Homo sapiens: one gene and its partners. The protein of the gene in region 2 interacts with the protein of the main gene of each other region in a pairwise test. Each region holds a gene or a part of one and is shown on either strand. Other genes may lie near its edges. The genes, in order: MTNR1B, EBF1 and ERO1A.

Evidence for each region.
Region 1: the proteins of EBF1 (region 2) and MTNR1B interact in a two-hybrid assay, tested with the Homo sapiens proteins (one large-scale study listed by BioGRID and IntAct).
Region 3: the proteins of EBF1 (region 2) and ERO1A interact in a two-hybrid assay, tested with the Homo sapiens proteins (one large-scale study listed by BioGRID and IntAct).

Annotation. Positions count from the first base shown.
Region 1 is NC_000011.10:92,979,651-92,983,429, forward strand, and holds the end of MTNR1B (melatonin receptor type 1B), read left to right. Parts: intron 1-1,796; coding exon 1,797-2,662; 3' UTR 2,663-3,132; downstream 3,133-3,779.
Region 2 is NC_000005.10:159,097,105-159,101,185, forward strand, and holds the start of EBF1 (transcription factor COE1), read right to left. Parts: upstream 2,813-4,081; 5' UTR 2,375-2,812; coding exon 2,241-2,374; intron 853-2,240; exon of another isoform or gene 141-852; coding exon of another isoform or gene 121-140; intron 27-120; coding exon 1-26. UniProt on the Homo sapiens protein: Key pioneer transcription factor of B-cell specification and commitment. Recognizes variations of the palindromic sequence 5'-ATTCCCNNGGGAATT-3'.
Region 3 is NC_000014.9:52,646,993-52,650,639, forward strand, and holds part of ERO1A (ERO1-like protein alpha isoform 2 precursor), read right to left. Parts: intron 1-3,647. UniProt on the Homo sapiens protein: Oxidoreductase involved in disulfide bond formation in the endoplasmic reticulum. Efficiently reoxidizes P4HB/PDI, the enzyme catalyzing protein disulfide formation, in order to allow P4HB to sustain additional rounds of disulfide formation.

The DNA of each region.
Region 1 (3,779 bases), on a different chromosome or scaffold from region 2:
CCTGTCTCCCTGGTTTCCTAACCTAGCTGTGGACACAGTAGTATTATAGTTAGGTCTTGAGAACTCCCAGGACTCCAGTAGACTTGTGTGGGTTCTCAGTGGGGTTGACCCCATTCCTCTGAGGTCAAAATAGGCCCTTCATGAAGGCTTCCTGAGGGTCTTTCAAGTTCCCATCCCCATTCGGACCATGCTATGGGGAATCTTCTTTGAGATGGGGTGAATGTGGGAAGGCTGGAGGCAGTCCTTTTCCTACCCTTGTGGGTGAATAAGTCCAGGTGTGCCATCTACTTCACTTGAAGGGCTGACTCAGGTGAAATCCCAGCTGGGCGGCTCTCAGCCTCCCTTTTTCTGTACCCCGTGGAATCCACACAGAGCCTGGCCTCTCCAATTGCTGTGCTTTGGGGGCTCTTTCCACCTGCCTGACCCTCTAGACCCCCAAAGCCACCACAGCCTCTGTGGCAATGGGACAGACACATGGTGGCTGTGGAGTTTCCATGTCTGTGTCTTTGCTGACTTGGGAGTTCCTCCTGCACACCATCCCAGCCGCCCTCTGCATTCCGCCACCCTAAGGCTGGAGGCTTCACCATGTGGCAAGAGACCAGAAAATTTAAAATACCATGCCCAGTGCACATTGCATCACTCAGGGACCCTGCTGGAGGGAGAGTCTGTTATCTTTTGAGCATACAGTAGGTATTCAAAAAGTACAACACTTGGTGAATGAGAAGATTGGCATTAGTGATGGAACTGCTCACACTATGAGCTTTGTATTGCCCAAACGTTTAGGTTCTTGGTGCTCTATTCGTGAGTCAGTGTTGGTTTTAGAACGCAAACACTTGAGGAGCAGAGATTGTGTTCTTTTAGAGTAAGCCCTGCCTCTGCCCTGGGACTCCAGCTTAGAACATGCCTGAAGCATATTAATTGATGGGTGTATCATTTCCTGAGGCTCTCTCTGGTTGACCAAGCTTGGTGATGTTGGATAAGGCTCCATTCAAAGGATAAATGCCTAGATAGTCCAGGAAGGCCACCATGGTGCAGGCAAAGCAGGGAGGCCCCCCAGAGGCTGTGAGCTTAGGAGTGCTGACAGCCCTTTCTCACCCCACAGGGCTGGGGCTCTGTGCCGCTACTGCAAGTGTCTGTCAACATGGCCACAAGGCTGGGAGTACTGGACCCAGACAGGGCACAAATGGGAATACCAGAAACACATGGTTCCCACTCTCAACACCTTTCTTCTAGTCCAGCTGCAAAATGCAATTCACATTTACAAAACCCATGTAAAGACACTTAGAAAGTAGCCTGTTAACCAGTGGGGAGAAAATGCAAAAGGAGACAACCAGAGAGATGTGCGAGGAGGTGAGGGAATGTGAGGGAGCGATGATAGTGATGAGAAATCCACACTCCTGACTTTCAGACTCTCCTCCTCCGAAATCTTTGCTGGAGCTTAAATGGTGCAAAGCCCGTGAGCATCTGTGCCTATCATGGAAACAGTTAGCATGTGTCAGCACCTGTTAAATCCCTGAGCACTTTGTATCATTAATTCTTACAGCTATACTATGAGGTAGGTATCACTGCCCCTAGTTCACAAATGAGGAAAATGGGGCTCTGAGAGCCTAAACAGCTTGCCTCAGTCATATAGCTAGTGAGTGGCAGAAATGCAATCTGAGTCTTCAGTTCTGTGCCTCTAAGAGCCACTTGGTTTCCACTCACATTGCCAAAAGTAACTTCGTGGAGGGTAGGATGTTCTACAGAATCTAAGTCGTGGGGTCTCGTGCTGACTGTTGCTCTGTTTGCTGCTTCAGGTAATTTGTTCTTGGTGAGTCTGGCATTGGCTGACCTGGTGGTGGCCTTCTACCCCTACCCGCTAATCCTCGTGGCCATCTTCTATGACGGCTGGGCCCTGGGGGAGGAGCACTGCAAGGCCAGCGCCTTTGTGATGGGCCTGAGCGTCATCGGCTCTGTCTTCAATATCACTGCCATCGCCATTAACCGCTACTGCTACATCTGCCACAGCATGGCCTACCACCGAATCTACCGGCGCTGGCACACCCCTCTGCACATCTGCCTCATCTGGCTCCTCACCGTGGTGGCCTTGCTGCCCAACTTCTTTGTGGGGTCCCTGGAGTACGACCCACGCATCTATTCCTGCACCTTCATCCAGACCGCCAGCACCCAGTACACGGCGGCAGTGGTGGTCATCCACTTCCTCCTCCCTATCGCTGTCGTGTCCTTCTGCTACCTGCGCATCTGGGTGCTGGTGCTTCAGGCCCGCAGGAAAGCCAAGCCAGAGAGCAGGCTGTGCCTGAAGCCCAGCGACTTGCGGAGCTTTCTAACCATGTTTGTGGTGTTTGTGATCTTTGCCATCTGCTGGGCTCCACTTAACTGCATCGGCCTCGCTGTGGCCATCAACCCCCAAGAAATGGCTCCCCAGATCCCTGAGGGGCTATTTGTCACTAGCTACTTACTGGCTTATTTCAACAGCTGCCTGAATGCCATTGTCTATGGGCTCTTGAACCAAAACTTCCGCAGGGAATACAAGAGGATCCTCTTGGCCCTTTGGAACCCACGGCACTGCATTCAAGATGCTTCCAAGGGCAGCCACGCGGAGGGGCTGCAGAGCCCAGCTCCACCCATCATTGGTGTGCAGCACCAGGCAGATGCTCTCTAGCCTGGATCTGAGGCACACCAGCAGCATGACAAACTCATGAAATGGTGGGAGAGAGTCTGCTGCAAGGGTGAGACCAGGCAGCCTGCTGGGCCACACTGTCCTGTTGGCATCACAGCCCCAAGGCTGGGGGAACTTCATGCTGGGACAAGCAGCCCATCAACGCCATGGGTTCAGGCTGATCCAGGAGATGCTCACAGGCCACAGGACCTGGAAAACACTCTTGGTGGTGTCTTGGGGATTTGGTGCACACAAGACCAAGGAAAGGACAGAATGAGGAAAGGCCTGGGGCAGAAGAGCCCAACTCCTTCTCATAGCTGACCCTCATCCTCCTGCCTTGGCCTCCTGGCTGCTTTCTCCCCTTCCCCCCAGCGTGGCAGGATCTCTTCCTGTTAGCAAGGATGAAAGAGAGAGGTCAGTAGGACTGGAACTTGGTAACTGCAAGGGCCTCAGGTGGGGCAGGTGCAGAGGGCAAGCATTCCACACTCCGCCATTGACCTTCCCTACACACACACAATCACAACCACACATGCATCACACCACAGACACACCACACTATGCACACATACACTGTGTACACATACATATGTTACACACACATAGCCACCACATCACAAACACACTGCACCCCCCCCCCCCACACACACACACACAGTCACACTGCTCCAGCATCTGGAGCACAAAGTCCGCTTGGCCTCCTTTTCTGGTTCCATCATGTTCAGGTTGTGTGACTTGGGGAAAGTCTCCTAACCTCCCTGTTCCTCAGTTTACTCATCTTAAAGTGAAGATCATGCCGTAGTCAGCCTCCCAGGTTGTTGTGAGGATTCTCTGGGATAACACATCTGCAGAGCTGAGGACAGTGCCTGACATGTGGCTAGCAGGCAGTAATCATTAGCTTTTGTTATTATTATAACTACATAAAATGAAGGAGAAAAGTCATATACAAAGAAAGGAAGGGCTATCACCGGATGCGGTGCCTCACCCCTGCCTCAGCTTGAACCCAGGAGTTCAAGACCAGCCTAAGCAACATGGCAAAACCCTGTCTCTACAAAAATTAGCTGGGCATGGTGGCCCATTCCTGTGGTCCTAACTACTCAGGAGGCTGAGGTGGGAGGATCAC
Region 2 (4,081 bases):
AGTGAGCCCGGGCCAGACCCACCCCGCTGCGGCCAAAGACGCAGAGTTAGATGGCTAAACCGGACGCCGACCCGCGCCCCTTGTCACCCTGTACACACACTCGAACCCTCAAACACCCACCTCCTCTTCCCCCAAAACATCCAGTGGGCGCTCTTCACGCCCCTTCAGGCGACATAGACCCAGCTGACAACGGGACACACATGTCCCCTCATGTCCTCGTCCTCTCCGCCAAGGACGGGTGCGTCCTCAGAACTCGCTGAAGAGGTGTGAAAGTTTTGTTTGGGTTTTGCGCGCGAGATGAAACTCTATAAGCATTTACTCCTACCTGACACGCACTGCGTGGGGAGGAAGAAAAGTGGCGGTGGATGAAGTGAACCCACCTTCGCGGAGTAGAACCCACAGTTATATTCCGGCACCCCTCGAATCTCACGTCTCAGCTAGCAGGGCAGGTGGGAATGGATGGAAAACATGCTCGGCGTCTCGCCGCAGCAGCCACCCTCCAGGAACCCCTCAAGCTCTGGCCAACTGCGAGTGCCCGGCCTTGGGAAGCCACATCCCCCCACCACCAAAAAGCATGTGGAGAAGGGTCCGAGGGCGGGGCTCAGAACTGTCGCGGGTGGTCGCTGTGAAAAAGGGAAGAGGGGTGTTTTCTTAAAGACCTGTCCTAACAAAGTTTCGCTGTTCCGCAGAAATCCTCACACTCATTCCAGAAATCCTAAAGGCCAGGGCTGCTGGCTCAGTGCGCCGGCCGGCGATGGGAGGCTGGAGCGCCTGGGGCGCCAGGCGGCCACTGACAGCCGGACCTGCCCAACACAAGCGCGCACAGGCACACACACACACATAGAAGAACACACACGAGCGCCCCGCGCACACACTTTCACTTCCAGCCCAGTTACCCAATTCACTCTCACTACCACCCACCCCCATCCTAATACTCAGTGGGGATGGGAACAGTGTTGGGGACACTTGTCCCCAGCCCAGGGAAGCTGGAGATGATGTAATTAGTCATCTTCCTTCTTCCCCTTCCGCACTCTGAGTCCGATAGGGCCTGGGGCCACCAGATCTCCCACTGTCCCAAGCTCAGCTGGTGGCTTAATGGGGGGAAAAAGGCCATTTCTCACTTGGGACCAGGAGCCTGGGAAAGAGCCTTGGGTGTGCCCAGGAAAGTTCCCTCAGGTCAACCTCCAAGGGCAATGCCTCCAGGCCACACAGTCTAGTGTCTAGGGAGCTGCGAGTGAGAGAAGGGCTGGAAGGGGCCATGGTGACAGGGGCTGGAGAAGACTTTTGGGAGATATCAGAATTAAAGTTGGGAGTTGCTATTCTACCGGTAGACTAAGAAAAAACTGAAAGACAGAGAGGGAGGGAAGGAGAACGAGATAGCAGAAATAAGAGAAGACTCAGGGGAGAAATGGGACGAAAAAACAGGAAAGCCAGAGAGGTAAGGAAAGGAGAAAGAGGAGAAAGGAGGGAAGCTGAAGAAAGAAGAGAAAGAAAATGGAGAGAGGAAGGGAGGAAGGAAAAGAGTGAGGGAGAAATTAAGGGAAGGTGGGGGAAAGAAATGAGAGAAGGAAATGAAAGAAAGAAGAAAGAAAAGAAGGCAGGAAGAGAGACAGGAAAGAACGAAGAACGAAAGAAATGGAAGGAGGGAAGAGGGGAAGAAAGGAAGAGGAAGGAGAAGAGAAGAAAATAAAGGGGGGAGAAAGGAAAGAAGGAAGAAAGAAAAAAGAAAGGCAGGAAGAGGAAAGAGAAAGAAAAAGGAAAAAGAAAAGGAGGAAAGAAAAAAAGAAAGAAAAAGAAAAAAGAAAGAAAAAGGAAGGAAGGAAGAGAAAGAAAGAAAGAAAAAAGAAAAGAGGGAAAGGAAGAGCGAAGGGAAAGAAGAAAAGAGAGCCGGCCGGAAAAGAAAGAGCAATCACATAAAAACATAAAACACAGATCTCCAACATGCTGTGTTGAGACGCCTCTTCTGGGTTAAAACAAAATGAAAACAGTCACAGACGAGGCAGGGGAAAGTGCTGGCAAAGCGTGGGCTCCTCGCAGACAGCTCCAGGTCCTCCGGCCGCAGGCGACGAAGGCAGAGCGGCTGGAGAGCGCGGAGCCCCGGCGGAGAGCGGAGCGCAGCGGCTGCGGACTCACCCCGCCGCCCGGCCCCGCGGCAGCAGCTGCCGCTGCCGCTGCCGCCTCCGCCTCCCGGCTCTCCCGCTCGCGGCTCACCTCGGCCGCGGTCCCCGCGCAGTACCCACCTCTGCGCCGCCGTGTTGGCGTCCAGCACCCCGGCGCCCTGCATCCACGTCCGCACCGCGTTCATGCCGCTGCCCAGCGGCTCTTCCTTCATGCTGCTTCCACTCCGTTGGATGCTTTCCTGAATCCCAAACATGAAAACAACCTTTTCTTGTGGAAAATCTCCTCCCCCTTGAAAAAAATTAAAAAAAAAAAAAAAGGAAAGAAAAGAAAGAAAAGAAAAGAAACAAAAACGCCAACCAGAGATTTTTTTTTTTCTCAGACGATGAACTCGCACTTAGAAGATCAAGGCGGGCTGGAAAGCAAATTTTTAAAAAATGTAAACCTCTGCTCAAAACTGAGCGATAACCCGAAAAAAAGAAGAAAGGGAAAATCCAACGAAAAGACCAAAATAATAAAATTAGAGATGTATGCTTGGCTGTTGGGGGTTGTTTGGTTGGTTGATTTTTGGTTTGGGTGCTTTTTTTTTTTTTTTGCTTTTTTTTTTTTTTTTTTGTAATGATCACAGGCCGGTGGAGGACAGGAGGGGCTGGAGTTTCCTTTTGTAGAGGTACCCTTCACTTGAAGAAGCAGGAAGAAAAAAAAAAAAAAAAAAAAAAAAAAAAAAAAAAAACCCTGATGGCAATTTAAGAAACAATAGACTCAACTCGCGCTGCCGGCTTTGCTACTTCAAGTGTCATTTTCCACAACCAGGCAAGTTTTTTCCTCTCTCTCTCTTTTTTTTTCCTCCTTCTCTCCCAACCAAAGATGTTTCTTTCCTTTGCGTGTAGATGAGGAGGACGCTGGTTGCCGTAGACAGATACACCAGAGAGGGTGGGGGGAAGGGGAGAGAGGGAGAGAGGAAAGGGGGGGAGGGAAAGAGAGATAGAGAGGAGAGGGAGAAAGAGAGAGGGGTGGACCCTGCTGGATGGAGATTCTGTTTTCTCCTTGCTAAAATAGAAGTGATTTGCAGGCTTTCCCTATGGAATCCAGTTTGACTTTCCCCAGAGCTAAACACAGGCACACTAACCCCAAAGGGAGGAGGCGGGGCCCGCGCATCGAGGCCCCGCCCCTTCATTTGCATAACGTCATCTTTCCGCCCACCGCAGCCAATCGCGGCCCGGGAGCCGGCTCGCTGGCGGCGCCAGGCCACGCTCTCTCATTAACATCCCGCTCCCGGTGGCGCAGGGGAGCCGGCCAAAGTTCCTCGCAAAGTGGCGAGCGAAGGAGCGCTGAGCACTGACGTCTGGGCTGGGGAGGAGCGGGTCCGAGCGAGGACGGAGAGGGGACAGAGGGAAAGGGAGGCGGGTGTCTTCCTCAGGAATTTGAGCTGGGGATCTGCATCCTGGCCATTGCAGTCCTTTAGCATCCTCGCCGCGCCCTGAGCGCGCTGGAGGCTCGCAGGCTGCGCCCTCCCAGGGCTGATGCCGCGTCCTGCTCCGCCGTTCTGGGACGTCGGGGACAAAAGTGGAGGAGACGGGAGAGCCCGGGCAGAAAAAGCAGGACGCGCGTCCCAGGTGCCCACCTCTTCGCTTTGAGGCGGGGGCGGTGGGATGGAATATGGGTGCGCGAGGTCGGGGCTGGTAACTCTCGGAGGGGCACGGCCTCCACGCTGGGAGGGATGAATGGACGCTGGGCCCCGGCAAATGAGGCGCTGTGGGTCCCCAGGAAGTGGGGTACCAGGCTCTACTCCCACCCCGGCCTCTGAAACGCTTCTCTCTCGGCCGCTAGCCTAGAGGCTGCCAGGGTTGGGCACTGTTCTCACTCACACGCTCACCTCTCTCGGGCAGTCCTCGAGATATGTGAATGGTGGAATGAATGCTCTCACTGGGGCTGTGTCAGGATGCGTTTTTAAATTTTCTCA
Region 3 (3,647 bases), on a different chromosome or scaffold from region 2:
TTTTTTGAGAGTATCGCCCTGTCACCCAAGCTGGAGTGCAGTGGGGGAATCTCGCTCACTGCAAGCTCTGCCTCCCAGGTTCACACCATTCTCCTGCCTCAGCGTCCTGAGTAGCCGGGACTACAGGCACCTGCCACCACGCCCAGCTAATTTTTTTTTTTTTTTTTTTTTTTTTTTTTTTTTTTTTTTAGTAGAGGCAGGGTTTCACCATGTTAGCCAGGATGGTCTCGATCTCCTGACCTCGTGATCCGCCCACCTCGACCTCCCAAAGTGCTGGGATTACAGGCGTGAGCCACTGTGCCCAGCCCTTTGGTTTCATAATAATTCAACCACAGCCCTTCTTTCTGGTATGAATAAGGTAAACAATCAGGTCTTCCTTTGTTAATATTAAATTACTATTACTATTAAAATGCAAAAATATATAAAATATAGTGAATGCCACATACCCACTACCAAGTTTTAGAAAAATTTGTCACAAGTACAATCGAAGCCCCTCATGTTATCTCTCGAGTCCCATATCCCACCCTCTACTACTATATTGAATTTGGCATTGTTCCCTTTTTGTTTTTATGCTTTTAATACATATGTATACATCCATGAACCCTAGAATATTATATCATTTATAATAGGGCGACATGCATCCAGCTAATCTAAACATAGTATATGTCCTTAAGGAATATGGAAAAAAGAAGGGAAGCCAAGAACACATCCTTCTTTTCCTTCAATGGAAATTACCAACTGATCCTCCAAGAGACTCCTGTACTGGACTAAGAGGGGAATCTCAAGCTTACAGTATTCTTAGCAGGAAATCTGACATACATCTCAGATAGAACATCCATTATACAAATTGGCCTATAATTTAGGGAGCACACAGTATTTCTCTTATTCTAATGTGATAAACCACACACTAGGCTCAACCAGATGAAGGCAGGACCACAAATCTAAAATAGGAATAAATCAATGATTGGAACCCACTATTCAAAGGAAACCTCAATTTGCTCTGGAGACAGACTTTCCCAACATGCTTTATTCAGTTTGTGACTTTCAAACAGCTGTAACATGAAAGAAAGTTTTAATAGGATCTAAGATGTAATATCTTTATTAATTAAGACAAAGCCCAAATTGTTCATTGTTACCATATCTTAATAATATTCTCTATCTTGGTTTCAGTACCTGTACAGTAAGAGGTACTATTTTTTTTTTATTTTTATGACCACATGACATCCAAGCAACAGGTACTAATTTTAAACCTACTTAAAACTAACCGGTAATATTACTCTACAAAGATTCTGTGATCTGATTTTAGGTTGCCTTTAAACTAGAGCATTGACCAAAACTTAAAGAAAAATCACACTTTTAACAATAATAACAGAGTAAGAAAGTTACCCTAAAGAACATGTTCCCATCCTATGAGCTGTTGACTTCCAGAAGACTTAATGGTTATTATGAGGATCCACAGAATCCACATAGAGACAAGACTATATACCACAGAATAAATAGCTCACATATATGCACTATAAATTTCCAAATGGATAGAAATGTTATGATCAATAAAACACAACTTTTACTTTTAAAGTGTTACTAAATGCATGGTGGCTTTTTGGCAATCATATTTTCAAAATCAACAGATACTAAAAATACTCTGTCATGAGAAGAGGCCTTGAAAGTTCCTGAGTATAAGAGACTCCCATACTTGTGAGAGTTGGAAGCCTCTGTTCTAAAAGACTGTGCTTGCTTTTGTAGACGCTAATTTCAATGTTTGCTTCTACGTTAATTCAAATACTTGAATGTGACAGCTCTTGAGTAAGTCTTTGTATGACATGTACAGAGAGCAGGCATGGCTGCTTACAATAGCCAAATAAACATTGTAAAATTAAAACCAAGCACATCAAATAGCATGCATCTTCTGCTTAAGTGAACTTAATATGCTAGGACCAAATTAATAGGCTAGAAATTTACTAGATCAAATTAGTAAAAATTAGTAAGGATTTCACAGGAGAAAATCCTTGTGACTTAACAAATAACAATTATGTACAATAACCTGAGTATATCCCCTAATTATCTCAGGTTAGAAAAAGGTATGGTCCTTAAAATAACCAGTACCTAAATCACTTACAGATTTTCCTTGTTTAGACATACAGTTTTAGGTCATCACTTTAAATTACAGCCAGTCAATAGAATGATCAAGCATGCTGTGATTTATATTCAGTGAAACCAACTGACCAATTCTTGCCCAAATTCTCAAATACTTTACAAGTCTTCAAATGAGATCGTATTCTATTTGAATTGAATGCTAAATAATTCTCCTTCATACAAGTCCTCTATTTCTAACCATACATTGATAGGGTACTAAGGAAACAAGATGAGATTTTTAAAATTAATTTGTAAATATGACTGTTTAAATCGATGTTTACCAGAAACTGCTTTTTAAAAAAGTAAATCTTTGATAGTAGCATGTTTTGTTTTTTACATCTTTCCTGTAAAAGATTCAGAAAAATTCTGTTACATCAAGACTCTCTACCTAAACTTCATAGGACATTAAAGGTGAGTGTTTCCGAGTTTTGATCAAATTAAAACATTGTGAGAAATCTTTCTAATCTGCATGATTTAAAAAGAGCTGATGCCAGAACACTTTCCAATAAAGCAGCAAGTAAACTAAAAAAAAAAAGGAACATATTGAAAATAGTAGGAAAAAAAGAAGTCTTATTACAGCATCTTCCCCCTCACTTTCTAGTTCCTGGAAGCTGTTTAGGCAGATTATATAAGCACTGAGGTATGTATTTGTAGCAAGAATGCTTCAAGTAGGAGGTAGATGGGAAGTCAAGAATAAGTATTATCTAACAGCAAAAAAACTGAGTGCATAAAATCAGGTTCTTTCATTACAGAAAGAAAGAATGAAAAGCAGAGGAAGATTTTTGTAAATATTTTGATGAAATCAGGCTGGGTATGGTGGTGGCTCACACCTGTACTCCCAGCACTTTTCGGAGGCCAAGACAGGCAGATTGCTTGAGGCCAAGAATTCAAGACCAGCCTGGGCAACATAGTGAGACCCCAACTCAACAAAAAAATTTTAAAAGTTAGCAGGGCATAGTGGTGCCAGCCTGTAGTCCTAGCTACTCAGGAGGCTGAGGTGGGAAGATGGCTTGAACCCAGGAGTTCCAGGCTGCAGTGAGCTATGATTATGCCTCTGCACTTCAACTCTGGTGATAAAATAAGACTTTATCTCTTAAAAAAACAAAAATATATATACAATATGTATGAAATCAGACATATTTGTATAGAAATCTACCTATACATATCTACCATATCTAGTATCTATCTATATCTAGTATCTTTATTAAGACAAAGCCCAAATTATTGTTAATTGTTACCATATCTTAACAATATTCTCTATCTTGTGTTTCAGTACCTGTTCAGTAAGAGGTACTAACTTTATTTTTACTATTTTTCTATGACCAGATGACATCCAGGCAAGAGGTACTAATTTTAAACCTACTTAAAAAAAAAAAAACTACTCAATAATATTACTCTACAAAGATTCTGTGATATATATATATGATTTCATATGTACATATATATAATTTCATGTGTGTGTGTATATATATGTATGTATATATAAAATCAGATCAAACCCAGTAGTATGGAGG